Homo sapiens: one gene and its partners. The protein of the gene in region 1 purifies or fractionates together with the protein of each later gene. This does not show direct contact. Each region holds a gene or a part of one and is shown on either strand. Other genes may lie near its edges. The genes, in order: RBM18, RIOX2, CNRIP1 and TMOD2.

What was found.
Region 2: the proteins of RBM18 (region 1) and RIOX2 purify together in Homo sapiens (affinity purification with mass spectrometry; 3 studies listed by BioGRID and IntAct, with this or other methods). This does not show direct contact.
Region 3: the proteins of RBM18 (region 1) and CNRIP1 purify together in Homo sapiens (affinity purification with mass spectrometry; 3 studies listed by BioGRID and IntAct, with this or other methods). This does not show direct contact.
Region 4: the proteins of RBM18 (region 1) and TMOD2 purify together in Homo sapiens (affinity purification with mass spectrometry; 3 studies listed by BioGRID and IntAct, with this or other methods). This does not show direct contact.

The regions. Positions count from the first base shown.
Region 1 is NC_000009.12:122,261,815-122,268,991, forward strand, and holds the start of RBM18 (probable RNA-binding protein 18), read right to left. Parts: upstream 3,027-7,177; 5' UTR 2,901-3,026; intron 1-2,900. Other genes in the region: MRRF (ribosome-recycling factor, mitochondrial), read left to right, coding at 3,932-3,966.
Region 2 is NC_000003.12:97,941,419-97,948,444, reverse strand, and holds the end of RIOX2 (ribosomal oxygenase 2), read left to right. Parts: intron 1-995; coding exon 996-1,084; intron 1,085-2,557; coding exon 2,558-2,647; intron 2,648-3,102; coding exon 3,103-3,261; 3' UTR 3,262-5,130; coding exon of another isoform or gene 5,131-5,219; 3' UTR 5,220-6,001; coding exon of another isoform or gene 6,002-6,161; 3' UTR 6,162-6,627; downstream 6,628-7,026. Other genes in the region: CRYBG3 (very large A-kinase anchor protein), read right to left, coding at 5,131-5,219, 6,002-6,161. UniProt on the Homo sapiens protein: Oxygenase that can act as both a histone lysine demethylase and a ribosomal histidine hydroxylase. Is involved in the demethylation of trimethylated 'Lys-9' on histone H3 (H3K9me3), leading to an increase in ribosomal RNA expression.
Region 3 is NC_000002.12:68,309,928-68,316,953, forward strand, and holds part of CNRIP1 (CB1 cannabinoid receptor-interacting protein 1), read right to left. Parts: intron 1-7,026.
Region 4 is NC_000015.10:51,746,903-51,754,621, reverse strand, and holds the start of TMOD2 (tropomodulin-2), read right to left. Parts: upstream 3,026-7,719; 5' UTR 2,910-3,025; intron 1-2,909. UniProt on the Homo sapiens protein: Blocks the elongation and depolymerization of the actin filaments at the pointed end. The Tmod/TM complex contributes to the formation of the short actin protofilament, which in turn defines the geometry of the membrane skeleton.

The DNA of each region.
Region 1 (7,177 bases):
TACTTCAGTTCAACAACTGTCACCCAAAATAAGCCTTGGAAACCACCAGGAAGAGTCTTAATGGCATTAAAAGGGATGGGTAGGGAAGAGCAGCACTCCATCCCTTTTCCTCATGGAAGAGGCAATATAGCAAAGAGAAGAGGCAATATAGCAAAGAGAAGAGGCAATATAAGAAATCTGTGCGTAGACAGAACTGGGTTTGAAAGCAGGTTGTGTGACTTGATGAACTACCTGAACTTTCTAGGCCTCAGTTTCCTCATTATCTAGAGAGATAATAGTGCTTATTTTATAGAGTTGTTGTGAAGATTAAAGACAGTAAAAAAATCACTAAATACTGTATCTAACAACAGTAAGTAATCAATAAATACTAGCTATTATCATGCTTACTCTTTTGGGACAGACCAGGAAGAAGAGACTAATTTCCTCCTTAGTTATTCAAGTTCCACCATTTGCTAGCTATGTAGCCCTGTGCAAGTTACTTAACAGCTGTTGGCCTCAGTTCCCTCATCTGTAAAATGGGGATAATGCCTCATGAAATTACAGTGCAGATTCACTGAGTTAATACACCTAGAGCATTTAGAACCGTGCATGGCACCTAGGAAGCATTCAATTAATGTTAGCTTAAATTATTACTAGTCTTAGTTCCTGAAATGTCTCATCTCACAGCCAAGGAGAAAAGAGGATTATGATTATGATGGAGACAGCAGTAGAAAGAGCAGAAACCTTGGTGTCAGAAGACATTGTTTCAAATTGTGGCATTTCTTTCTTTCTCTTTTTTTTTGTTTTTGAGACAGACTCTCGCTCTGTTGCCCAGACTCATGGGCGGTGGCACGATCTCGGCTCACTACAACTTCCACTTCCCGGGTTCAAGCAATTCTCATGCCTCAGCCTCCCGAGTAGCTGGGATTACAGGTGCATGCCACTAAGCCTGTCTAATTTTTGTATTTTCTTGTAGAGGCAGGGTTTCACTATGTTGGCCAGGCTGGTCTCCAACTCCTGACCCCAAGTGATCCATCCACGTCGGCCTCTCAAAGTGCTGGGATTACAGGTGTGAGCCACCATGCCCAGCACAAACTGTGGCATTTCCACTGGAAGTTATTTCTTTCTGAGCTTCAGTTTACCCATCTTTAATAAATTTTGCCCTGTTTATAACTTAAGGCTTCGAGGACCAAAAATGAGACGACAGATGTGAAATAAAGCTTTAGGGGCTGGGAGGACAGCAGGCTGTGTCAGAGTTCAGAAGTCCCTGCTAGAGAACACATATCCTATACCCAGAAGTACCTCAGAGGTCAGCACTACAGGAACCATGGAGGCAGTCACAACAACTGCCATTACCTCTTAATCATCTCAGCACACCCTGTAAAGTCTAGCACAGCAGTCCCTAGGTAATTGTTTATTGAATACCCTGCACATGAGGGTATTTTTCTTCCTTTCCCATTCACATCTTTAATCTGTTCAGCAATGTAAGTCAAGCAACTAGGAACTGTTAAACTCTGGGCTATGTACTGAAATAGACAAATGAAAAAGCCACAGCTCTTGTTCTTACCTCCTGGGAGAAAGGTGAAACAGACATAAATTTAATCCCAGGGGAGACACATTTTTGTCTTCCCTCTGCTTTCCTTTCCCCCTACTTTTTAAACAAATCATTCATTCAAAAAATAAATTCACTGCTTCTATTATCTAGGACTTATCCAGTTACTGGAGTCAGAGCAGTGAACAAGCAAGGTCCCTATCCTCTGGATGCTTGTATTTGGAAGGGGAGCAGGACAAAACAAAAGCAAAATAAATAAAGAAGATATAATTAGTGATACATGCCACAAACACAATTAAGCAGGGTGATGTGACAGGGACTCGACGACTATAGATTGAGTGGAGGGAAGGCCTCTCTAAAGGAGATGACATTTGGGACTTGAATGATAGGACATTCTGATTTTCTCATGTCTAAAATCAGGAATAATACCAATAGCTATTAATATTTATTACCACGAAAAGGTACCATGTTTTACTGGTAAGAGTGCAGGCTATGCGGGTCTGGGTTCAAATCCTGACTTTTGCACCTAGTAACTGCACCTTTAGCAAGTCACATGACCTTTCTTTAAGCATCCTCTCGATAGAAAAGCTTTCCTAAACAGAGTTCCTTGTTATTCTATATCATAGCCACTTTTCCATCTTTTTCCTCCTACTAAATGCTAATTCAATGTATTACTTAATGTTTCCTCTTCTATTTCCTTCACTAGAACGTAAGCTCCCACAGCACAGGACCTTGCCAATCTTGATCACGGTTCTATTTCTAGCACTTAAGTACACTGCCTGTCTCACGGTTGGTGCTTAATATTTACTAAATGAAGCAAGCCGCTTCTCCACTCGAAGACTTAGTTTCTTTTTCCTTCCTAGAATGGGTACAATTTGTCGTCTCACGAGGTCGTTGTGAGTCTTAAATAAGACAATTTTGGTGACAGCTCAGAATATGGCTTTTTGAGGAAAGGTAAAGGGTAATAAAAGATCAAGACGGCACGGGACTATCAAAATGCTTTGCGTTTGCAATAGCAACAATCCTTTAGACTACCAGAGTTCACAAAACGCGGTTACATTTGTCTTTCCAGCTGAGCTGCAATAACTCTGGAAGCCAGAAATAGTCATCTGGGGAAAGTGCAATCCAGAGAAGAAGAGACACCTGATCCTAACAGCAAGCGGTGGGGTCATGCCTGGAACCCTGGCTTCCCGATTTCTGGCTGCGAATTCCTACAGGCGAAGGGTCATTACTCGGATTGTTATTTCCGGGCCAGCGACAGGACAATCCGGGGCGGGGCCTGAGATGCAGTCCTGCGAGGGCGGCCTCCTGTAAGACCTCTTAGCGGGCCCATCGCTGAGGTGCAGGGACATGTCGCGGCCGAACTCACCTCGTGGCCTCGGCGTGGTGCTCTCAGCTCATGCCCGGAAACCAGGTCCCGACGCCGCGGTCAGACGGACCTCTAGACGCGTCCGCCTCAATGCCGCCAGCTGCCAGGCCGCCCGTGACGCGTTAAGCCTGCGCCGCCTCCTGGCTTCGTGACGTCACGACGTCCGCGCAGCTGCGGTCGCCGCCGTCGCACGAGTCTTTCCTTAGTAACCTGGGCGATAGCTGGTGAGTGTCCTTGACAGGGCCTCGAGGGGCGCGTGTGGTCTGGGTGCCAGAGACCCTTACTCAGGGACCTCTGGGGGACCTCAGGGGACCAGACTACCGTCCCCGACCCGTTCGAGTCCAGCTTGACCTTTAAGGCTGAGGGCGGGACCTGTGGCATTGGAGCGAGTCTCATGGGGTGGGGGCGGGGCTCCTTTTACCAGCTAGGAATTTAGGGGATGCTGGAGGAACTTACTAAAGAGTAGCCGCACACTTGACGGGAACGTTTGAGTTTCAGAACAATCCCATAGGAGTAGATATTATTATCTCCCATAATGAAGAAACGGAAGCTCACATAGGTAATTTTACCAGGGTCACGCGGTCAGAAAGTGAGGGCGCTTAAATTCAGACCTAGGGCTATCCGACTCCTAAGCCTGGACTTTTAACCACCACTCTGTGCCACCCAGTGGCAAAACAGTTGTCATTTCAGTAGCCCTTCTCCATTTACTTAACCCTGACAAATAGTATTGTCATTTACGTTTTACAGATGAGACGGAAGTCCTGAGAGTTTGACCGATTTAAGGTCACGTGCCTAGGAAGTGCTGGAACCAAGACTCGGAGTTTTCTCTAAGTTTAGTGCCTTTATTTTGTTTTAAACCACACTGTTGCATTTCCCCCCATTTTGGAAAGCTTTATAGTTGGAAAGAATGAAAACCTGATCTGACCCCTTCATTTTATGGTTGAAACAAAATCTACGTAGGAGAAATCACTTGGTACAAGTCACAAGTCAGTGGTAGAGCTGCCGCAAATGCTTTTTGAATACGTGTGATTATGAATCTAAATGGCAGATGGCAGGGAGTGATAAGGTAGGCATACTGGAATCCAGATCTCTTAACTCTTAGGCAAAAGCCCTTTCTCTACCTGTTAAAGTGTCTCATTCCTTCTTTGGCCGTGCCAGGTGCATAATGATTCTGTGTATAGTCAGATACTACAAGTACCTTTCTTTACCTGGTACTGCATTTAGAGAAGAACATCATCTACTATCTCTAAGCAAAAATCTGGCAAACCAGAGACAGTGGAGGCAACGCTGGGAAGCCCAGAACCTACCATAATAGTAAGGGTAGATTCCCATCCGATTCTGGTTTACCCTGGATAAGGAATTTATCTTTCTGGACTTTCACTGATGTATTCATCACATTCACAGTGTCTTCTGTGTTCTGGCAATGTACCAGGTACTGGGGATACAGCAGTGAACAAGAAAATCATAGATTAGTCCTTGTAGTACTTAGAGTCATATGGAGGGAATTAGACAATCAAATAATTACACAAATGTTAGCTTGTATTGTTAAGAATTAAGTGCTATGATGAAGTAAAGGGTGCTATGAAAGCAGACTACAGGACACTTGACCTAGTTGGGCTGTAGGAGATGGCCAAGGAAGCCGTCCTCTGAGGAAGTGATGGTTAAGCTGAAATCTGAAATAAAAACGGAGACAAACAGTTAAAGAGGTGAGGGAAGATCATCAAGGAGATTCAATGGCATGTTTGAAGACCCTGGAGCAGGGGGAGCCCTGGAGAAGTGAAAGATCACTTTTCTTATTTTGCAAAATACGGGTGGTGATTATCACTCTTTAGTTATGAGAACCAGTTAAGATGGTACATGTGAAAGTATTTTATATGCAAGAGCCTGCGTATATGCACACTCATAGAAGTGCTTATGTTATAAGCTAGTATACAGCTGCATTGAAAAGAGTTGCTGGGACAGTAGATAAGCCAGGATTTTGGGTTGGTCATCTAGCCAAAATTAAAATGAACCTTCTGTGAAGAACAGGGAAATCGTTTGAGACCCTCAACTTTGGAAAAAGAATGTGTGCTTCAAGTAGTTTAAAAAAATATTTCAGTCTGTAATCTCAGCACATTGGGAGGCCCAGGCGGGCGGATCACGAGGTCAGGGGGTCGAGACCATCCTGGCTAACACGGTGAAACCCCGTCTACTAAAAATACAAAAATTAGCTGGGTGTGGTGGCGCACGCCTGTAATCCCAGCTATTTGGGAGGTTGAGTTAGGAGAATGGCTTGAACCCTGGAGGCGGAGGTTGCAGTGAGCCAAGATTGCGCCACTGCACTCCAGCCTGGGCGACAGAGTGAGACTCCGTCTCAAAAAAAAAAAAAAAGAAAAAAAATTCAGGCCGGCGCAGTGGCTCACGCCGGTAATCCCAGCACTTTGGGAGGCCGAGGCGGGCAGATCACCTGAGGTAAGGAGTTTGAGACCAGCCTGGCCAACATGGTGAAACCCCATCTCTACTTAAAATATATAAAAGTTAACTGGGTGTGGTGGTGGGTGCCTGTAGTCCCACCTACTCAGGAGGCTGAGGCAGGAGAATCCCCTGAACCTGGAAGGCATAGGTTGCAGTGAGCTGAGAACGTGCCACTGCTCTCCAGCCTGGGCAACAGAGTGAGACTCTGTCTCAAAAAAAAAAAAAAAAAAATTTAATAGTTGGGATGCTATTATAATAGCTACAATTTATTGTGTACCTACTGGATGCCAGGCATTGTACTGTGTGTATGTGTTTTGTTAAGTGACTAGGTCTCACTATATTGCCAAGGCTGGCCTTGGACTCCTGGCCTGAAGTGATCCTCCTTCCTTAGCATCCCAAGTAACTGGGACTATAGGCACCCATCACTGTTCCCAGCCATGCTGAGTGTTCTATATGCATTGTATAGCAGTTAATAACATAGACTCTAGAGCTAGATTGACTGAATTCAAATCTTGGGCAGATTTTTGCTTCTGTTTTCTTATCTGTAAAGTGGGAATAATCATAGTACTTACTTCAGGGTTATCATGAGGCTGAAATGAGTTCATGTGCATAAACCACTTAGAATAGTTTCTGTCACGTAGTCATTGTTATATAAATGTTAGGTATTGTCATTATTGTTATCTTTTAAAGTCTCATTAATATCACTATGATGATGATGTGGAAGCTGTAGCTCAGAGAGGCTAAATGACCTCCCCAAGGTCACACAGCTAGTAAGTGGGGGAATTGAGATTCCAGTTCCAGACTGCGTCCAAAGCTCAGACACTTCCCCACATTGCTTCTATGTATAGGTTAATTTTGTTGGCTCATACTTGGGATCTCAACAAATTTTTCTTCAACTTTAATTCTTTATCTGTGCTGAACTGAATGTTAATTTGTATACCCTTAAGGTAAAGGACCTAAAGGACTGCTTTTATTGAACTTCCACTTTGAAATTTCTTGACTTCTGTGCAATTAAAATCTACGCCTTAAGCATTTCAGCGATGTGGTTTATTTATAGAGTTGTCTTCCGGTTCACGTGTACTGGGTCTGCTTTTGGGTGCTGCGTTTTCTGTCAAAGGTTGTTTATTTCTAACCCATTTTGATTTCCTGTTGCTTTGTGAGTTGGTATTATGACCTGCAACAGGAATACCAGGAAACCTGTCTTAAATGGAGCAGCCAGATTGAGACCCTGTAGACTAAAATAAAATCTACTCATTATTCTACAGCCATATTTGGTTATAAGTATGAGTTAGGCATTGGTTTTATTAGGGAAAAACCTAGATATAGAAACTTCACTCTGAGCCAAACCTCTGTGAACAGTTCTGCTAAAATAGAGCTTGGCTATTAGCTCCATGTCCTTGGACAGTGACTTAATCTCTCTGAACCTCAGTTTCAGCATCTGTAAAATGGGGATTATTATACGTTCTTTGTGGCATTATTGAGAGAATTAAATGAAATAGTATGGTTAAAGCAAACAGTCCAAACTTGACCTCAATTAATAGTAGCTATTGATACTAGTAAAGAAGAAAAATATTCCCTTTTTTCATCAAATCTGGTTTTATAGACTTCATACACTGATCACTAACTTCTAGTATCCCTTACTGTTAAAAATTCCATCGCGAGAAATGATTTGCCTTTGTGCTACTCATTTGCTTTAAAAATAATATCCATCATTAGGCCGGGTGCGGTGGCTCACGCCTGTAATCCTAGCACTTTGGGAGGCCGAGGTGGGTGGATCACGAGGTCAGGAGATCGAGACCAACCTGGCTAACAAGGTGAAACCC
Region 2 (7,026 bases), on another chromosome or scaffold:
ATTCTGTGGAATTGCCTGTGTTCAACAGGAGAACACAAAGACCTAGCTGTGAGTGCCAGGCCAGCTTTTTGGCTGCTGTTCTTTCTCAGGGTTGAGTGAAAAGAGTATTTTTTACTAACTTTAATAAAACTCTTAATTATGACCAAGAGAGAACCACTGAGATAGATAATCTATAAGGTCCCTTCCAACACTGATTCTATATACATTTTTATCATAGTCTTTGGAGGAAGCTTAGAATTTGTTTTTGATTGTATCTATTCAAAATAGCAAATGTTTTACAAGCACATGGTTTAATCTTTAGCAGAACAGTTTGCTTATGCACCAGCTTATGGCCCAGACTACTTCAGTGTTTTCCTTATCTTAGGCATTATACTCAATAAAGTGATGATCCCTCACGACTCCTTCCCCACGCAGATGACCCTGTAAGGCTAGTCTGTTTTTATTGGGTATTGTTCCACTAAGTTAAATCCAATTTGGAAAAAAAAAATTTTCTGTGGACTTTATTAGATGGCTTTTATAGGATACTATTCTTGACTTACATAGACTGAATAATTGACCAGGGTCACACACCTAATAATTGGTGGAGTAGTGCAATTTTGAACTCAGGTAGTACTTCCAGAGTCCATATGTTGAGCGAGAAGCTTGTAGAGGACAGAACCTGGAGGAGTGAGTGTTCTGTGCAGAAAGCACCACAGCCTTATGTGCTATGATAGCCACTGTACTTCGATGGTATTATTTTTGTCTATTTATTGTACTTATAAACTTACATTATTTATCTATGTCTGTCTTCACTGTAAGAATGAGCTGCATAATGATGTGAACTATAATATCAGTACAATGTTGGGGTAAGCAAATTCTTCAGTTGGAGTGTATGCCATGTTTGGATTCACCTGTAAATTGTTAGTAAATGTGTTTCCTATGTGTATGTATAAGCAAGTTTGAATCTGCCTGTTTCCTTTTTTGAAGGTCGGCTTTCTCTCTTTGGGGTTTTCTAGGTGGAAAGTTACCGAGGCTGGACAGTGTAGTGAGACTGCAGTTTAAAGACCACATTGTCCTCACAGTACTGCCGGATCAAGATCAATCTGTGAGTATCCAAGAGGAGGAGATTTCCTGTCTTCTCAGGGTGTTTTTCATCAGAGGCCTCAGGTTATTAGATTAACCACTGGTCTCTGCCCTTCTTTAGGAATCCACCTGCATTCAGTTTAATGCCATTTCTTCAGGTCAGATGATGACCAAATCTCACAGTTCCAATTCCATATTTTCTTGCCCTCATCCTCACAGAACCTTCCTTCATCCCCTTTATGTGGTGATTAATGTCTGGTCTTTGCTTCTCATCCTACTTCGGGCCTTACTGTTCTTGCTTGGACAGCCACAGACCTCATTCCTGAGTTTCTCAGCCCCAGTCCTCCACACTGTGCAGATCTATATTTCTATGTGGTTTTGTGGATATTGTTGCATCTCCTTAAACTCTATCCTGTAGATTATGGAGAACAAAGTATATATTCTGTAATTTTGCTTCCTAGCCCAGTGATTCCCCAAACTGGCTAACTGATCATGGAGTCAATTGGAAAGCTTTTTAAAATTATAAATTCCTGGGTTTCATCTGGTCTTGGAGCCTTTGGATTTATGTTTTGATAGAGCTCCCTGTACAGTCCTAAAGACCTTGGAACGATCTCATACCATATGGCTCCACCTCATTCCTCCTAATCAGCTCTCTAAGGAGCTATCCCATGAATGATCAAGGGGGATGAGAGGGGCACTCAACATGTCTCGATAACCAGATTGTTCCAGCCGTCAGGGCCAGAGTTGGAATATATATATGAATATACATGAATAGATATATATATATATATATATACATCCTCAAAAGTACACATTCCTACATCCCTGTCTAAAAAAAAAATAGTGATTCTGATAACCAGTCAGTTTGAGACATTGTACGCTAGGCTAAGATTTTTTTGCCCTTATCTAAGAGGTGACAAAGAATGACTAAAGGCTCTGGAAGAGACAATAAACTGCACTGTGTAACATGGGGAGTGAAGGGAGATAGGGACCATTTGGGAGGGTAGTGTAATTGAAATGGAGTTTTTTATCGATCACACAGCTGGTATTTCTCAGGAGTTAATGACTTCATGATTATAAATTGTCAGTTTATACCTAGAAATGTCAGATTTTTTTATTCAAAAAAGATAGTGCAGGTATGATTAAAAAAACTGAGGATTTCATTGATAAGTTGATACATAAATCACTGCTTTTTCATTAAATCCTGAAGATGCTCTTCCAGGTAGCACTCCAGCTGTTTTAACAACTTAGAATGCCCATTAATTGCCACATACAAATAGTAACCTGTGGTGACTAATGAAGTATAGACATTGTGTGGATGCACACACCCGTCACTTTTTGCCAAAAGGATTCTTTACAGTATTCAATAAATTTCACTTGAGCACCAAGGCTTTTGAAATTTTTTTTGGTGTTGACCTATTGGAAAACCTTCCTAGTACTGACACCTTCAGTGTTGTGTTGTTGATGGCCTAATGCATTTATTTTTTCCCCAAAGGATGAAGCTCAAGAAAAGATGGTGTACATCTATCATTCCTTAAAGAATAGTAGAGAGACACACATGATGGGAAATGAGGAGGAAACAGAGGTTTGTTTCAACTGAAAACAAATGCCTATCCTGTGACTTGGGTGGTGGTTGGGAAGAATTGATTATTTTTGATTTACAGGTAATATGCTTTTTATGGCTGCACTGTGGACTTAACCATTTTGCACTACTCACAGAGCTCCTGCATGGGGATGATTAAGTCAGACATTTCTGTGATACATGCACACCAGTTTTAAGACATACTAGCTGGGACCTGTAGCCTTATAGGAATGGTATAATGTAAAACATTTCAAATTACTAATATCACTTACTACATAAATTAGGATGCCTTTTATATAGAAGTTGGCATCTTTTATGTTATCTAATTGTAGTGTGTCTAAAATACTCATGAGGGGTATCAAAAATAATGATGTATGGAGAATAAATTTACAGGAAAATGCTACTTCAATGACATAAGTAGTATACATATATTTTGACAAATAAATTTATCCTTTCAGTTTCATGGACTTCGCTTCCCTTTGTCACATTTGGATGCACTGAAGCAAATTTGGAATAGTCCAGCTATTTCTGTCAAGGACCTGAAACTTACTACAGATGAGGAAAAGGAAAGCCTGGTATTATCCCTCTGGACAGAATGTTTAATTCAAGTAGTCTAGTGCCTTTGCAGAATCAAATGCCTACTATTTTATATGCATATATTAAAAGAAAAGCAAAGACCTGAGCCGAGGAGAGGATGAATTCAAGTTTCCTTACCTGCGTATCTACTAACAAACATGAGACCTCCCTGTTACAGGTGGTCAGTTGGCCAAATGTACTAACGGGCACATGAAAGAAAGAACAGCAAATTACCAAGTGTCTCAGAAAATGACAAAACCATATTTTGACAAGTTTATTTAATCCAGTGTGGTAGAAAAGGCACAATTCCAATGTATCATTTAGAATTGAATGTCATTAACCTGGCTTTGTTCTTTGGAAGAAACAACTTCTTTAAAGAGCTTCTTTGGCTCTAGAAAAATTTCAAACAATTAAAATAAGAAAAAATTTTAAACTGGTTTTTTATAATGAAAATATACATACCTTTGTGTATAGACAAGCCCATGCCCATTAAAATAAAGTTATCCTGTAACATAAATTTTATTAAATAATACTTCCCCACAGATGAGAGGCACGCAACACCTATGGACAAAAGGGAGTTACAGAGGCTGCTTAAAAGATGGAGAAAAGCCTGAGATTGAAGGAGGAAAAAAACCCAGTATTTAAAGTCTATAAAAAATACTCAAAATAGTGGGTCTTCGAGTTTAAAATAGTCATTGTTATTTTACATTCTAAAGTGCATGTAGGTTGATATTTTTTAAAATATCATTGGAGAATTTAATCTTTCTTTATAAAAATAGAGCATTTTTCTGCTTTCTGGCAAAAGTTGGGGATAAAAGGAAAAAAAGTTGTCAAAATGTAATTTTCAGTCCAATTCACCAGGAAAACATGCTTGTGAATTGTGCAGTAAAAGGTGGTAATGACTACTGGAAGCTAAGTCAAAGGTGATTTCCTACCTGATTTTACTTACTTAAATAAAAGTTACTTACAATGGGAGTGAAAAACTGAGGTTTCTGTTATTTAGTAGAGAAATCAACTCCACGTTTACTTAAAGAGATGGTAAGGTCAAGGTTCAAATGCTACTGTGTTTTAATTTGGATATTTGAAATTTCTCTTGAGGCAAAAAAAAAAAAAAATTGATGCCTCTCCTTAAATCTAGGATGAAGTGTCAACATGGAGACAGGTAACCACTGTTATAGAGTCTTGTCACCTAAAGGGATGTCTTGGTTAACACGTAACAGTGCAAGTTTGGCCATAGGTTATTTATTTGTACTTTTTTAGTTTGAAGGACTGAGGAAACAATAGCTACAGAAAATACTTCTTGTGCCTTATTCCTAACAAAGCTGAGGTCCCTGCCTGGGGTTAGTTACAAGTATAAATACTTAACGAGGTGCGTTCATTATAAAAGCCTCAGTATAGAAACCTTAAAGTTTATCTAGGAAAGTTTAGTATATTTTCAGGTGTTGCTAAAAAATTACTCATCTGTTTGCAAAAGTATGACTTGACCTATAGAAATCTGTTTCTTTATGCTTTGTACTCATACAAGCATCTAGGTAGGATATTAATAAATAATACAGGATAATAGCATCACCAGTGTCCAATAACGGGCCATCAGGAACAGGATTCACGTTTGGTGGATATGAGAGAAAATAAACACTTCAGGAAACTTGCTCACCACAGCTGGAGATCAGGAATAGAACCTTTCCAAGATATCATAATATTTTCTTTATAGGAACACTGAGTAATGGCAAGAATATTTTGAGCTTTTCCATGGTTAAGAGCGATAGTCTCAGAGGCTGGAGAAAATGTTCATTCTGCTCAGTGATCCAGGAGTGTGAGGACAGTAGCTTCCTTTCCACGTCCACAAGACAATGACAGATGTGTTTCCTTCTTTGCTCTTTCTAGGGATCTTTCTAGGGATGTTGATTCTCTCACAATATTTCAATGTCCCATTTCTGTGTTTCTTCTCCCTCCAGGGGCTGATTTACAATTACATGAGTCTTGTCACAATAATTTCCTCCTAAAATAGAAATTCCAAAAGAAAAGATTATTTGTTCAGGCAGGTGCTTAGCAATTTCACAATTTTCACAAGCTTCTGTTCAGCTCACCATTTCGGTGGATGAATGTGTCATTTACAAAGAAGTCTGAAATGGGAAGCTGAGTTTGAACAGGCTTAGCCATTATTCACCTCAAATTGGACCTTATTATGACTCAAATTGAAATACTAAAAGGTATAATACATGATTGTATAAGTGGCGTGCCTTAATGTGATTCTTTAGAACAAAGTGCTCTTGAGAGAACTCTGGCTGAATGTCAGGTACTGTGTTTTTGTTTCTACACCAACAAAACTGTGACTAACCCAATTAAAGCAACAGCCATGAATAATATTGGCCCTGACCTTGCTGAATTCAAAAACAAGGTTAATTGATACCTACCATAAATTCTACCTGAGGGTTTTTAAGGACCATGGCAATTCCTGGCAAAAAGCTAGAGATGTTTCTAAGAAACAGATGACATTCATTTCATGGTTTATGGTGCTTGAAATTTAGAACTGTTCTGAGTTCACGTAGCAAATGAAAGTTTTACAACTGTACTAATGAACAAAAACCCTAAGCTTTGTTGTTTGGCTTTTTCTGCTAATTGTTTTGTTTGTAAAACTGCCTATCTTAATTTTCTTCAAGCATAATTTTAAATGACTTAACATTTCTCTTATACATAAGGATGTCCTTTACCCAAAATGAGGAGATTTGGAACTGAAACTAATATCCAGGGACACAACATTGGGTATCATCAAAGGCCCACCTTTAACATCAAGGACAAGTTGATCACTGAGATAAGAGCTGATAGTTCCATTTTTATTCAGTCTCCACTTCTGCCTGAATTGCCCATGTTCAGTCCATAGAGCTACTTTAGCTCCAGGTGTGTCCCGGCCACCAATCACATCAAGACATGTATCACTGGCCTAAAAGGGTTAAGAAATGATTAATTGGCAGTAGTATGTTTGCTAAAGTAAGTTGAATTAGGTCCCTTTTATCTTAGGTAAACAAGTCATAGACATGAAGTGTGTGTGTGTCTTATCTAAAAAAATACTATATAGTATAATTTCAGTAAGCCTTTTTTAATGTCTTCTTTACGGCTGTGGGTAGGAGATGGTACAGAAATAAACCAACTGAAATAGAGGTACTTGTTTTTAATAGGATGTCTACATCTGACAACAGATGTTCAATAAAGATTTGGTGAATTGGAATTAAATGTTAAATCCCTGTTTGCTTAAAACGTATTATGTTGAGCTTGGTTTTCTTATGAAAACATTGCATGATGGGCTAAAGATATCCAGACAATAATTACTTTTAAAAGTTTTTCATTTTTGAAGCATGAGAAAAAGTAGATAATCCATTGGTGATACAATAAAACACAGTTTGAATGTTTTTAAAGTAGTGTTCTATTCCCAATGCATTAAACATAACGGAAGGGTCATAGAAAAGAACCCTAAATTTTATTTTCTAAGCTTCTTCCAATAACAGCTTTCTTCTTCTACTGCTTCTTTGTATACTTTGAAAATGAAAGGTTTCAACATATTTAGAATCACAGAGATGGCTGATTTTATCTGGGCCATCAAGTAAGGAACATCTTACAAAAGCACATTGTCCAACTTAGATCTGGTGACTTATACCATTGGTTGTAAAAAATCACTTAGGTATATCCATAATATGTGATAACCTTTGTGTTTACTTAAAAATTGAAACTGGATTTTCTTGTTCAAAAAATTAAGTTAATTTTATATAAATGTTTTAGTAATATATGGCAGTATTTTTATAATCAACACC
Region 3 (7,026 bases), on another chromosome or scaffold:
ATTAATAGCTTCTTTATATTTACGTATGTATGTATGTATGTATGTATGTATGCATGCATGTATTTTGAGTACATTCCCTAACCTCAGAAGTAGGTATCAGAGTAAAGAGTTTTGGATTGGCCAGGCACGGTGGCTCACTCCTGTAATCCCAGCACTTTGGGAGGCCGAGGCAGGTGGATCACTTGAGGTCAGGAGTTCGAGACCAGCGTGGCCAACATGGTGAAACCCTGTCTCTAATAAAAATACAAAAATTAGCCAGGTGTGGTGGCACGCGCCTGTAGCCCCAGCTACTCTGGCGGCTGAGGCAGGAGAATCGCTTGAACCTGGGAGGTGGAGGCTGCAGTGAGCTGAGATCGCACCACTGCATTCCAGCCTGGGCAACAAAAGTGAAACTCCATCTCAAATAAAGCAAAACAGTTTTGGATTGATAGAGCAGCTGGAGAAATAGGGGAACCTCAGGGTGGGTATATCCAAAAATCTCAGTATAAGCTCTCCAGTTCCTTGGCTGACTGCTAAGCTCCATGGGCACAAAAGGAGACCAGGCTAGAAAAGCAGCAACTGGAAGTTATAAAAACTGAGCAAAGAGATCAGCTGCTGCATACTGCTGGAAGATAGAATTTGAAGTTTGAGTACAGGAATGTTTACTGCCAGCTAGAATACAAAAAACCAGTAATACCCAGAAGAATAAAGCAGAAACTAGAGTTGGTAATAAACTATCCACAATGTTAAGTTTGTGGCCAAAAATTACGAGACATGTAATGAAACATGAAAGTGTGACCCATATTAAAAAAAAAAAAAGTCAGGCTGTAATAATTTACTCTAACTAGAGCCAGGTGTTGGATTTATTAACTACTTCAAACCAGCAATTACAAATGTGCTCAGATAAATTAAGGAAAACATGGTCTCAATTAGCCAACATAAGGAATCTTGAGAAACTGAAACTATAAAAAAGACAAATGAAAATTCTAGAGCTAAAAAATGTTATAGAATTTAGAAGATAAGCACAAGACTAGAAATAGAAGAATCAGTGAACTTAAGGATACATCAGTAGAAATGATCTAATCTGAAGATCCATTAAAAAAAGAAAGAAAATTGAACATGTCCTCAAAGACTTATGGGATAATACCAAGCTTTTCAACATATGTTTAGTTGGGGTCCTACAAAGAAAGGAGAGAATGAAGTATTAAAAAAGTATTTAACAAAACAATGGTTAATAATACTCCAATTTTGGTGAAAACATTAACCTCTAGATTCAAGAAATTCAGTGATCCCCAAGGGGGGAAAAACCAGTTAAGATGCATCATAACCAAACTACTGACAAGCAGAAAGAACTCTATGAAGGGATCATTTTACTGTATATGTATTATACTTAAGTTAAAATATTTCAAAGCAAACAAGGGAAGGGAATAAATATAGGATTAGAAAACAATGAAGTAGAAAAACAGAGTGAAGCATGTGAAAAAAAAAGCTAGGATTTTGAAAAGGCCAATAAAACTGAAATCTCTAGCTAGACTAATCAGAGGGTATAAAAATAAAAATTTTGAATAACAAGAGTGAAAGAGTAGGTCGGGCGCGGCAGCTCATACCTGTAATCTGAGCCCTTTGAGAGGACAAGGTGGGCGGATCTTGTGAGGCCAGGAGTTCGAGACCAGCCTGGCCAACATGGCAAAAGCCCATCTCTACTAAAAATACAAAAAATTAGCTGGGTATGGTGGTGCGCACCTGTAATCCCAGCTACTTGGGAGGCCGAGGCAGGAGAATTGCCTGAATCTGGGAGGCAGAAGTTTCAGTAAACCGAGATTGCACCACTGCACTCCAGCCTGAGAGACAGAGTGAGACTCCATCTCCGGGGAAAAAAAAAAAAAAAAAAAAAAAGAAAAGGATCAAAGAGTAAAAGAGTAGACATTATTAGAGATCCTAAGACACTGAAGAATGGCGGAGATTATAAACAACTTTATGGGAATAAAGTTGAAAATTTAATTGAAATAAATGACTTCTAAGATAAATTACAAAAACTCAGGAAATAAAACCTGAATAGCCCGATATCTATTAACGAAATTGAATTTGTAATAAAAAATCTTCAAATAAAGTATAATCTATGCCTTCATTGGTGAATTCTGACATTAAGAAAAATATCATTTCTATATAAACTCTTCCAGAAAATAGAAGAATGAACACTTTCCGAATCATTTTATGTAGCCAGCATTACTCTGATACCCAAAACTAGACAAAGGCATTATAAGAAAAGCAAACCATAGACAAATATCCCCCCCGGAACATAGATGTCAAAAATCCTTAACAAAATATTAATGAATCAAATCCAGTTTTACATACCGAGAATAAACCATGACCAGTGGTATTTAACCTGGGAATTCAAGGTTATTTTAACTTTGAAAAAGCAAGGTAATCTACCATAAACAGAATAAAACACCTTATGATCATTTCAAAAGATACAGAAAAACTATTTGAAAACATGTTATAATACGTTCATGATTAAAAAAACATTCAGTAAACCAGGAATAGAAGAGAACTCCTTTAACCTGATAAAAAGATTTACAATAAAGAACCTTACAGCTACTATACTTTGTATTGAAAAACAGAATGCTTTCTCTCTCAGACTGAGGGACAAGAATGTCCACTCTCACCATTTCTATTTAGCAGCATACTGCGAAGGTCCTAGCCATTGCAATTAGGCCATAAATAAAATGAATACAGATTGGAAAGAAAAGAGAAACTATTTACAGATGACATGATAGCATATTTAGAAAATCCTAGGGATCCTCCAAAAACAGCTATTAGGATTAGTGAGATTAGCTAAGTCTCAGGATTCAATATCAATATACAAAAAAAATCGATTTTATTTCCATATACCAGCAAAGATTCCATTTACATTATTCAAAAATATGAAATAATAAATTTAACAAAATATGTATAAAGTCTGTAGAGGAAATACTGTAATATATTGTGGAGAAAATTAAAGATGACCTAAGAGATATTTCATGTTCATGGTATAGAAAACTCTATATTAAGATGTCAAATATCTTTAAGTTGACCTATAGGTTTAATGGAAACTCTATATCCCAATTTTTGGAGGAATTGACAAGCTCATTCTAAAATCTATATAAAACACAAAGGACCTAGATTAAGCAAAAGAACTTAGAATAAACAAAGCTAGAAGATTTATGCTACCTGTTTTAAGGACTACAATATAGATCAAACAAGATTGTTTTGGGTCTTCTATGTCTTTGGAATTTCCAAATTAAAAAGACATACATTGAGTATGTAAAGCAACTAGAATTCTCATACACTGCTGGTGGATATACAAAATGGTACAACAGTGTGGATATTTCTTACACAGATAAACACATACTTACCATGTGATTTAGCAATTGTCCTCTTAGGTATTTACTCAAGAGAAATGAAAATATGTTCACACTGAGACTTATACTCAAATGTTCACAGCAGCTTTATTCATAATAGCAAAAGCTGAAAACAACCCAGATGTCCATTTATTGGTAAAGGGAGAAATTATGGTATATCCACACAACATAATATGCTACCCAGAAATAAAATGAACCAACTACTGATATGTGCAACATAGGTGAATCTCAACATTATACTAAGTGAAAGAAGTCAAACAGCACTGTTCCATTTACATGAAATTCTTACATAGTTAAAACTAACATATTGAGATGGCAAGCTCAGGATAGGTTAGGTTGGGAGGAATTAACTGCAAATAATTTTCAGGGTAATAGAAGTGTTCTGTTATCTTTATTGGGGTGGTGATTATATAGTAGCATCTACTTGTCAAAACCTATGTAACTGTAAAGTTGGTGCATTTTATGTTAATCATATCTCAAAGCTGATTTCAAAAACTTCAATGATTTCCTATAGTCATTAGGATAAATCCAGTGGCAAAAAGGTTCTATATCATCCAACCCCTACTTACCTCTCTGGCTTTATCTTATACTGTCTTTGCCTCACTCTATGCCCACCATGTTGGGCTTCTCATCCATTAGAATACATACGCTGTCTCCAGCTCTTGACTTTTACAACTACTCTTTCCTCAAATGCTCTTTCTTTCCTCAACTCTTATTCATCCTTCATTTTTTCCTCAAGAAAACCATCCCGCAAATCTTGGACTAGGATAAGACCCTTGGTATATACTCTAACAGCACTACTTTTTTGCTATACTTTTCATATTAGCAATTATTTACCTTATCATTGATAATCATGTATAAAGTATGTTTCCACCCTCAAGATCAGAAATTCTATGAAACCCGGGTTATCTATTTTGTTCACCACTCTTCCCCCTGAGTCCCTGATATACAGGAAATCCTCAAATATTTGCTGATAAAGCAAGCAAATTTTAAAAATCTAAAAATTCTAAATAAAAGAGCATATAGAATTTAGCAATATATTAATAATACATGTTTAAGTAGGGCTTATTGTAAAAAATAAGGTTTAGTATTTGGAAGTGTATTACTTTATGTAATTCATCAAATATATCAAATAAGATAAATTATCTCCAACTACTGCTACTAGCTGTAGTTGACTGCTAGCAGCAGTCAACATTATTCTAGAAACATTAGACAATGCAATATGACCAGGAAAAAAAAAGACAGTTATATTCAGATTCTGACCATCTATATGAAAAACCCAAGATGATTTGCTGAAAAATTTTAGTAAGCAAGTTCAGTAAGGTGGTCAGTTACAAAGTATATGAATACATATTATAAAAACAGTGTATCTAAAACAATGCAGTATTGGTGTAACAATAGATAGATCAATGGAATAGATTAGGGAGTATAGGAGGAGATAAAATTTTTGCAATATAAGAAATTTCTATGAAACTGACCTTTGGAGAAGCATAGATTATTTAAATAATTGTATTAGGACACTGTGGGCAAATACTTTCCAATATAAAAGTAAGAACTGAAATAATATCTAAATCTGTAATTCATCTAAAATTTAACAAATGAGACCATAAGAGTTCAGATGAAAATACACAAATGCCACTGTGTATATGTCTATATATAATTAATTAATCTGGGAGTCAAGGAAGACTTTCTAAGCTGGATCTTAACTGCAAAATAATAAAGGAAAAGGCTAACATGTTTGACTACAAAATTTATATTTTATATTGTAAACAAAATAAAAATTAAAATATTAAATGAACACTCAAGATGTGATAAAAATGACGATTTTAAATTTATAAAGATTTTTCAAAAAATCAATAAGATACACTTAAGCAGAAAAATGGGTGAAAACTATGAACATATAATCCATGAAGCAAATACAAATAGTAAATGAATATGTCAGGATTTCAAATTAACAGTAAGTAAAAATTGAAGTATTTCAGTCAGATTAAAAATATGTAAACATGACAAACTATACCTAGTGCAGAGAGAAATGGATACTTAAATACAGATGATAGGCGTGTAAATTGCCTAGCTTTTCTGGAGGTCAGTGAGGCAGTCTTATAAAATGCCTTAACGTGCACATTTCTTCTAGAAATCAAGAAAACATTAGACAATTGTACAGTACTCAGTGATTTGTAATGTGGTTTTGTTTATAATACCGAAAACCAGAAATAATCAGCAATAAGTGACTGAGGATAATTTGATACATTCATAAAATACAATACCCATACAGACTTTAAAATGACATTCCATATATATATATGGGCATATATTTGACATTGAAAGATGTATACAAGTAGAAAAAAGTATATATATGGAATGATACTCAAATATATATATTTAATGACAGGGTCTTACTCTTGTCACCGAGGCTGGAGTGCAGTGGTGTGATCATAGCTCACTGCAGCCTCAACCTCCTGGATCCAAGTGATCCTCCTGCCTCAGCCTCCCAAGTTGCTGGCACTACAGGTGTGGTATCACCACACCCGGTTAACTAAAAAAAATTTTTTTAGAGACAGGGTCCCACTATGTTGCCCAGGCTCACACATATATATTCAAAGACATAGAAACAACTTTCTAAGAACATTTATTGACATGTTAACAACACTTCTCTCTTGCAGGAATTATACATTTCCCTCATTTTTGTATTTTTCTGTGTTGAAGGTTCTTTGACAGAACAAGAGCACTTTCTAAAAATAGTTCAAACATTGGATGCAAAGGGATGAGCTGCTAGATTATTTCCTTATGTGACTATTGTGGTTTTAAAAAGTATAATGGGGACTGGGAACACTTTAAGTTTCCAAAGGTTAGATAGGCATTTCTCAAAGTGCATTCCCACACCATCCTCTTCAGGATCTGGTATGCTTGCTAAGAGTTTCTCTGTCCCCACCCTAGCTCTACTGAGCTAAGATCACTGGAGAGGGAACCTAGGACTGGAATTTTAAACAAACTCCCAAAGAGATTCTCACGCATACCGATATTTGAGAACCCTTGTGATACTTCCTATAAAGCTAGAGGGCAGACAGTTGAAGGTTGTTCTTGCAGAGGGAAAAGGCTGCCCAGTTTGCAAGCAGCAGTTTAGGTGAAGCTTCCTTTTCCTGTGCTTTAGCAAGCTTGCTTCATCACCTATTTATTATGTTTGCACATATAGTTAAATCTATGTCTTGACTCTATCCTTTCTACCAATTTGTTTTTTCTTACTTGGGGCCATATTACCAGGGTATATCATTTTATTATATATGATATCTGATAGGATTACCAGATATTATATATAATAGGTATATATAATATAGGTATATATATATTATATAGGTGTATATATAATAGGTATATATTATATAAAATAGGTGTATTATAGGATATTATATAAGAGGTGTATTTTTCCCATGACACTTTTTTTGGCTCCTCCATTTAGCTTTAAGTAGCAAAGTGTCATTCAAATCAGCTTTCTCTTAACCAGAATATTGTGGCCTACTTGGAATCAGAAACTTTTCACAGCCAATTATCTAAACCAGTTCTGAAGTAGACTATAACTGGGAAAATGGCAATGTAGGTTCTGTCTCTTCCAGAACCATCTGCTTCTGCTTATGGTGTCTTTTCAGCA
Region 4 (7,719 bases), on another chromosome or scaffold:
ACAGACATTCATGCAAGTAAATATGTATACTTTAAATTAGTATTTTCATGTATACATAAACACATATAATCCAGGTAAAGCAAAAATATCTTTGCAGCAAGGGATTCCGTGTAAGAGATTAAGTGTTGTAAGAGTTGATTCTGTTTTCGTGGTCTGGTAACAGGAAGTCTCTTCTGCACATGCCTTCTATGAACCTCTTTGAACCACTTAAAGTCTATAAGGAAAACATTTGGTTGTATATGATTTACACACAAGGGAATGAGAGGAAACCCCAAAACTTCTATCCTATCACAAAGCTAAATCATTTTTCCCCCAACACTACCCTAACCCAAAATAAAATGAACCACTGCCTATGTTCTCAAACTTCCTTACACACTGACACAGATCTCGGACACAGAGAGGAAAGGGACAGCACTTTCGGGATGGTTCTTGGGTAGGGCTAGAATTTCTTAGGTATGGAGAATTACTAATACTTTGAAGTTGAAGCTAGAGGATGGGGTACTTAAGCATAAATGATTGAGAGTAGCCAAGATAAACCAAAAATGGGAACACCAACCCCCCGTCCCCCCCACTCACACCTCCAATAGGTGATTTCAATTTTGGGAAGGTGAAGCCAAGAAATTCCCCACAGATTCACTGCAGCTGTTTGTCACGAACCACCCCCGTCTTCTACAACACTTTCTCTTTATTCGCTTATTTATTTTATTGACTTCCCCATTTCTTAAAGTTCAAATCTATAGAAAAGTTAAAAGAATAGTACAATAAACATTTGTTTTCTTCTTGATTCACCAACCGTCATCATTCTGCCACATTTGCTACGTTCCTGAACTTGTTCTGCTACCCCTATCCTTTTTTTTTTTTTTCTGACACAGCTGAAAGTTGCAGATGTCATGACACTTCACCTCCAATATCCACATCTCCAAAGAATAAGGATTGTCTGGTCTAGGTAACCACAAGAATGAACTATTATTGCACCTAAGAAAATTAACACCAATTCCATAATATCATCTAACATGCAATCCATATTCAAACATCCCCAACTATCTCCAAATTGTCTTTTATAGCTTTTTTTTTTGCATCTAGGATTCAAAGTTCACACATCCCAATTCACTATTGTATCACTTGAGTATTTTAACCTACAATAGTTGCTCCCATTTGCTCTGCCCCATCGCCAAGTCTTTTTGCAGGAACACTACAGAGGTGAAATTATGCCTCCTTATTGCTTCACAACGGGAGACTCGCAGTAGATGCTGCTAAACTTGGTCATTTGGTTCCAGTGGTGACCTCCTAATTTCTCCATTGTAAGGACAAATTTTCCCAGAGTAAACTGTGGTGAGATACTTTGAAATAATATGAAAATCCTATTCCCCAACCACCTTTCACTCAAAGGTTTTGGACCAGTTGGTAAGTCCTTGCCTTATTCAACTGTTATGTTAGGTTTGCAGAGCGCCGAGTTCCTGATTCTCTCATTCCTTCTATTGCATATTTCTTTTTCAAACAATGATCCATCAGTACGCAACTTCTCTTTTCTGTGTATACACATTCTGGTTACTTCTTGCTGGGGCTTCCTCCCCGACCTCCATGCTGACCACATTTGACCACTCGTGCCCAGCCCTAGGGAGCCACTAATCCTTTATCTGCTGATCCCATCACTTCACCTTCAGCAAATTAAAGACAAAAACAAACCCCATCATTTTGTTGCCCACCAATGTACAGTACCTTACAAAAATTAAAATGATTGCAATGCGTATTTATTGGGTTAGACTGAAGAGAGTCGATCGAGAAAATCAGTTTTATCTTTAAAAAAAAATCAGATTGCTGAAGCTCTGAAAAATCTTTCCTCCTCACTAGGGTAGAGGCGCTTGTTGTCACAATTAGGCTTTTTGTAGTGCTGTTAAACAGAAACACTCTCATCTTTTCAGTTCCCTGAGAGGGGAGAATCTTGGAAGAACAGAGGTTTACAAATCATTTAGCCCAAACGCCCCTTTACATGCAGAGGCCCAGAGAGGTGGAGGGACTTGCCCAGGTCCCTCAGCTCCTGAATGGTCAAGCTAAGAGGAGAACCTGGTTTTTAAAACACCTCCCCCGATCTTCTTTTCATTCCCGTCCTAAATGCCTCGTGATTCAGATATGTAATGGGCACAGACGAAGCTGCAGTAAGCACGGCCTCCTTCACTGCTAATTTGCATTGTGACGGCATCACCTTCCTACCTCTGAATACTCTAAAAATTCCCATTAGAAGCCTTTTATTACTGTTTTAAAAATCCACCTTCATTTCCGCAGGTCAACAGGGAACATTTAGGAAGCCTCAAGGGAGCACATACTACAATTACTTTAACCAGAAAAGTAATAACAATAATAATAAGGTTCTCGAGGATCCGCACGAGGCCGCTTACTGGGAGGCTGAAACGCCCTGCGAGTGACAGCTCCAGCGATCTCAGGAAAGACGCCGGCCAGTCCACCCCTCCCCATCGCCTGCTGAACGAGGCAGGGAGATGCATACCGCTCCAGGAGCTCACCAAACATGCACAGGAAGGGGAAAAGTGGGGGAACAAAGCCCGGAGTGGAAGAACACAGCCCCGCAGCCCGGGAGGACAGGAGACCGCGCCCTCCCCGCTGCGGCCCAGCGGGCTGCAGAGGCTGCGGCACCGCAGTGCGGGGCGCGGGACTCACACCCCGGCGGGCGCCTCCCGCCCGGGCGCAGCGCCTGGTCTCCCGGCGCAGCCGACCGGGCCGGGAGGCGAGAGGCGAGAGGCGGCCCGGCTCTGCACGCCCGCCCGGCCGACCGCCCATGTCGCGGAGCATCCTCCCGCGGGCAGGGAGGGCACGGCGGCCACCGCGCTGCGGGCCCGGGGGCTGCAGACACCGGCTGTCCAGAACAGGCCCCACCCGCCCCCCGGGGCGCTCACCCGTCCGTGCGCTCATCCCGGAGCCGGCTGTGCTGGCCGTCAGTCCGTCAGCCCCGGTGGAGCGGGGCCGGGAGAACAGGGGCGGCGCCGTGGCCGGGGCGAGCGCGGCGATCAACAGGCGGCTCCCGGCCGGGCGCGGCGCCGGGGCGCGCGGCTGCAGCGGAGCAGGCTGGGAAGCGTAGTTCCCGGCTGAGCCTCGCCGCGGCCCCGCAGTCCCCCAGCCCCGCCCTTCCCCGACAGGTGTCCTCTCCCGGAATCGGGGTCTGAACCCCGCCACAGCTCTGCAGGGGAGGAAGCACCTGGGTCGGGGAGAAGCCTGGGCAGGCTCTTTGGAGACGCTCGGGGCTCCGGAGAGCGTGGATGGCAAAGGCTTTCAAGCCTGTGATGAGCATTCCTGTGAGCGAGCATCCTGACACGGAAGCCGCGTTGAGAGCGGTCTCAGGTACAGACCCCGCCCGCCCCAGGTTTTCCTGGCTGGGCGTGGGCGTGGGAGGAGAGAGTAGTTGGGTTGGCAGCCTAGGGAGGGAAGGAGGTAAGCGAGGTGGAAGTTAGCAAGGCTCTAGGGTGATGGCGTGAGGGGCTGGAGAGCCCAAGCGCAGTGGCGGCTTCACTGAGGTGAGACCGGACAACTTAGCCTGTCTGAGCCTTCGCGTCCTCATCTGTAAAACAGGCTTCAAGCTTGAAAAAGTGTTGTGAGGATTAAGCGACCCATAGCACTTAGGATCTGGCACTTAGTGCATACTCAGTGAAAGTTCCTTCCTTGGGGTTTCCGAGGGAGTTCTTGGGCCGGGAAAGTCCTATATGTCGTGCTAACCTAAAGATAGTTGGACCTCGTTGGGCTGGGTAAATGTTAAAATCCACTGGGTTTGTTAGTCGTTGAGCCCGTTCACTTCATCCCTGAATATACCCTGAGATGTTCTGTCTGCCAGGTTCTTGAGAGCTCCAAAGATAGAGAAAATAAAGTCAAGTTTCTGAAGCATGACAGCAGAGTGGGGTGACATAGGACAAAGACCAACATTATGAAAATACATGGCATCTAGATTTAACTTCCAGAGGCCTTTTCTAATTAGATGTGATATCTCTCTCCTTCTTGAACTTTTGCAGCATATTTTGAGCATAACCTTTGCTTATGGGACTTATCTTGGCAGTCTAAGGTTCGTTGAGTTTTGCAAGTTGCTGCTATGCAGTGTTTCACATGATGGTGGGATTTGCATTCACAGATGTAGTGGAGGAAAATGAACCAAAGGGATGGATGCAGCATGGCTGGTGTAATCTCTATATGAAATTTTAGGCAAAATGTGAAAAGAGGTGAAACAGCTTTATAGTCTGTCTGGCACGAGGTGTGCAGTAATCGTGTGGCCAAAAAAACGTGCTGCAGAGGAAATTCCACATCTGAAAATGATAACACTGGTTTGCATTTATGAAAATACTTTCCTATTTGTGTTCTCATTTGATTTTTACAAGAACCCTTGTGAGACAGGCAGAGTGAAGGTATTTTTCCCCAATGATAGTTAATAAGAGGCACAGAGAGGTGATGTGACTTATTCAAGGTCATAGGGGTGTTCAGTAAGCCTGTCTTCTCTCCTTCCACTGTGGGCACCCCCAGCACTGTCTCCCTTTTGCACATTGCAAAATAGGGCCATACCTTCCCCAGCAGATGGGTTGAACCAGAAAGTAAAGTTAATCCTCTAAAACTCTGGGAACTAGCATGATGAACACTGGCACGCAGTGGCTGCTGACTGAGAGACCAGTGTTGTTTCTATGATCAATTGTGGTAATGGACTATATCTTGGGCCTCCTGTCAGAATGACAAATCTGAGCCAGAAAGAGTTAAATGAAATGGGGGTGTGACCAAATTACTTTAAGTCATGTTCCCAAGTTTTCCTGTACATTTGTTATTCCGAATGTCCTGTGTAACCGACAGGATGCCTTTGACTTTTTTATGTTGTACATTTGTTACAGTCATAGCCTTCTGTTAAATAAGAACAGGGCTGCTTACGGATCGAGCCAGCAGTTTTCCCAGAGAAAGCTGATAGTAGGCATATGCTGAAAATAATAAAGCAATTTCATTCATATTGGAAGAAAGAGTAGCAAAGGTGCTCAGTAGTGTACAGTATTTCTCTTTGGTTTCCCGTGGTTCTGCACGAGGAAAATGGCTGCATGTGATAAAACGAATAGAGTATTCCTTCAGAAACTAGCCATGAAAGGAAGCAGACAGGGGAATGATTTAAGTTAAAGTCATGTTCGGCAGTCGAAGCAGAGATACAAGAGCTATCCTACAGCCCCAGAGCCATGCTCCAGGAGGATGCTGACACCAAAATAAAGTGAGTTGTGAAAAGAAACTTCTGATCAGTCTCTGTCTGTATGATGAGTGTTGGAAGCTGGAAGGTGTTAAAGGATGAGTGAGGGAAGTAGAACATTTAACCTAATGTTAAAACTTAATGGAAAGATATTACCAGTTCCAGTCTGTTTAGCTCTTTAAATCTATTGCCTATGTCTTATCTTAAGGAAGAAAGGATGTCAATATGCCTATGACTTATCAGTTGAAACCCATGATCATTTCTGGACCATATCTTGTAAGTTTAACTTTTCTACTTGCTTTTTAGAAGATGAAAATGTAAAATTGAAACAGAACTCCTGGAGCTGGAAGGGACCTTACATATCATTTTGTGTAGCCATTTCTTCCTGTAAATGAGGAAGCTGATATATTGACTGTAATTGTCAAATGGCAGAAAGGAAAAAAGTTCAACGTGGCAGTTATAATGAAGTATTTTAATTATTCACAGTGGAATATGTAGCACACCTCATTAGGAACAGGTAGTAGACACTGTTGGTTGTCTATTAAACATTCAGTCCACCCTCTTCTTCTTTATAGAAGCCTATATGGGTGTTTACACATTAGGAAAGGTGACCCTATTAGCCTCTGAGAGGTACACTCTCAAATCTATCATAGACAAGAGGAATAGAATCCTCTTAACTGGCCTGTAAGAGTTTAGGAGTGGACATGTGACCCAGTTCTGGCCATTGTAAAGAGATACGATGAATCTGGGTCGGCCATATTGTTGTTGAGTCAGTCATCAACCAGCCCCAGTGCTGCCCTTCTTCTGGATTTCTTGTTATATGAGATAATAAATAACCTTATTGTTGAGTCAATTTGAGATGGAGTTTTCTGTTACTTGAAGCTGAAAGCATCCTAAGTGTTAAAGATGAAATGTGAAAGTACATTCTTTGGATGGACTGAAAGACTGCTTCCTAGAGTTGATTAAAAACAACCACCACAAACCACAGGCAATGTGATGGGATATTATCATATAACAGATAACAACATGGGTTTTAACATCAGAGAGTTTGAACCCAGATATTTACTGGCACAATGACTATGGCCAAGTTTCTGTAACCTCCCTTAAGCCTCATTTTCTTCATCTTTTTTTTTTTTTTTTTTTTTTTTTTTGAGACGGAGTCTTGTTCTGTCACCAGGCTGGAGTGCAGTGGTGCGATCTTGGCTCACTGCAACCTCTGGGTTCAAGCGATTCCCCTGCCTCAGCCTCCTGAGTAGCTGGGACTACAGGTGCTGCCACTACACCCGCCTAATTCTTTGTATTTTAGTAGAGACGGGGTTTCACCATGTTGACCAGGATGGTGTCGATCTCCTGACCTTGTGATCCACCTGCCTCGGCCTCCCAAAGTGCTGGGATCACAGGCGTGAGCCACCGGGCCCGGCCTTCTTCATCTCTTAAACTGAGGATAATAATACTTACCACATGGGGTTATTAGAAAGACTAACTGAGATAATTTGTGTCAAAGATGCTTCAAAGGATATGGTGGATGATAAAGACTAAAGGAGCAGTGACTATGTTGATGAATTATGAATTAAATCGTATGTGTAGTATAATTGACAGCAAACATCTAAAAGCTAATTACTATGTAATCATGATCATGTTAAATGATACCACAGTGATGCAATCAGCAAAATCCAAAATATAGGAAGCTCTACATGACAAACAACTGATTCTTCAATAAATAAATTGCAAGAAAAATAAAAGGAGAGAAAGCTTATAGATACACAGAAATTCAAGAGACAAATAACAAAATGTAATGTGTGATCTTAATTTGAGAAAGCAGCTGTTAAAAATTCACATTAATGAGACAATTAGGGAAAATGTGAACACAGAATATTTGATTATATTAAGGTCTGTTTTCTAAAATTATTATTATTATTTTGAGACAGAGATTTGCTCTTGTTGCCCAGGCTGGAGTGCAATGGCGTGATCTCGGCTCACCACAGCCTCCACCCCCTGGGTTCAAGCGATTCTCCTGCCTTAGCCTCCCAGGTAGCTGGGATTACAGGCATGCGCCACCACGCCTGGCTAATTTTGTATTTTTAGTAGAGATGGGGTTTCTCCATGTTGGTCAGGCTAGTCTCAAACTCCTGACCTCAAGTGATCCGCCTGCCTCAGCCTCCCAAAGTGCTGGCATTACAGTTTTTGTTGTTGTTGTTGTTGTTGTTGGTTTTGAGACAGAGTCTTACTCTGTTACCCAGGCTGGAGTGCAATGGCGTGATCTCGGCTCACTGCAACCTCTGCCTCCCGGGTTCAAGCAATTCTCATGTCTAAGCCTCCCAAGTAGCTGGGACTACAGGCGTGTGCCACCAAGCCCGGCTAATTTTCGTATTTTTTTTTTTTTTTTTTTTTTTTTAGTAGAGACAGGGTTTCACCATGTTGGCTAGGCTGGTCACGAACACCTGACCTCAAGTGATCTGCCTGCCTTGGCTTCTCGAAGTGTTGGGATTACGGGCATGAGCCACCATGCC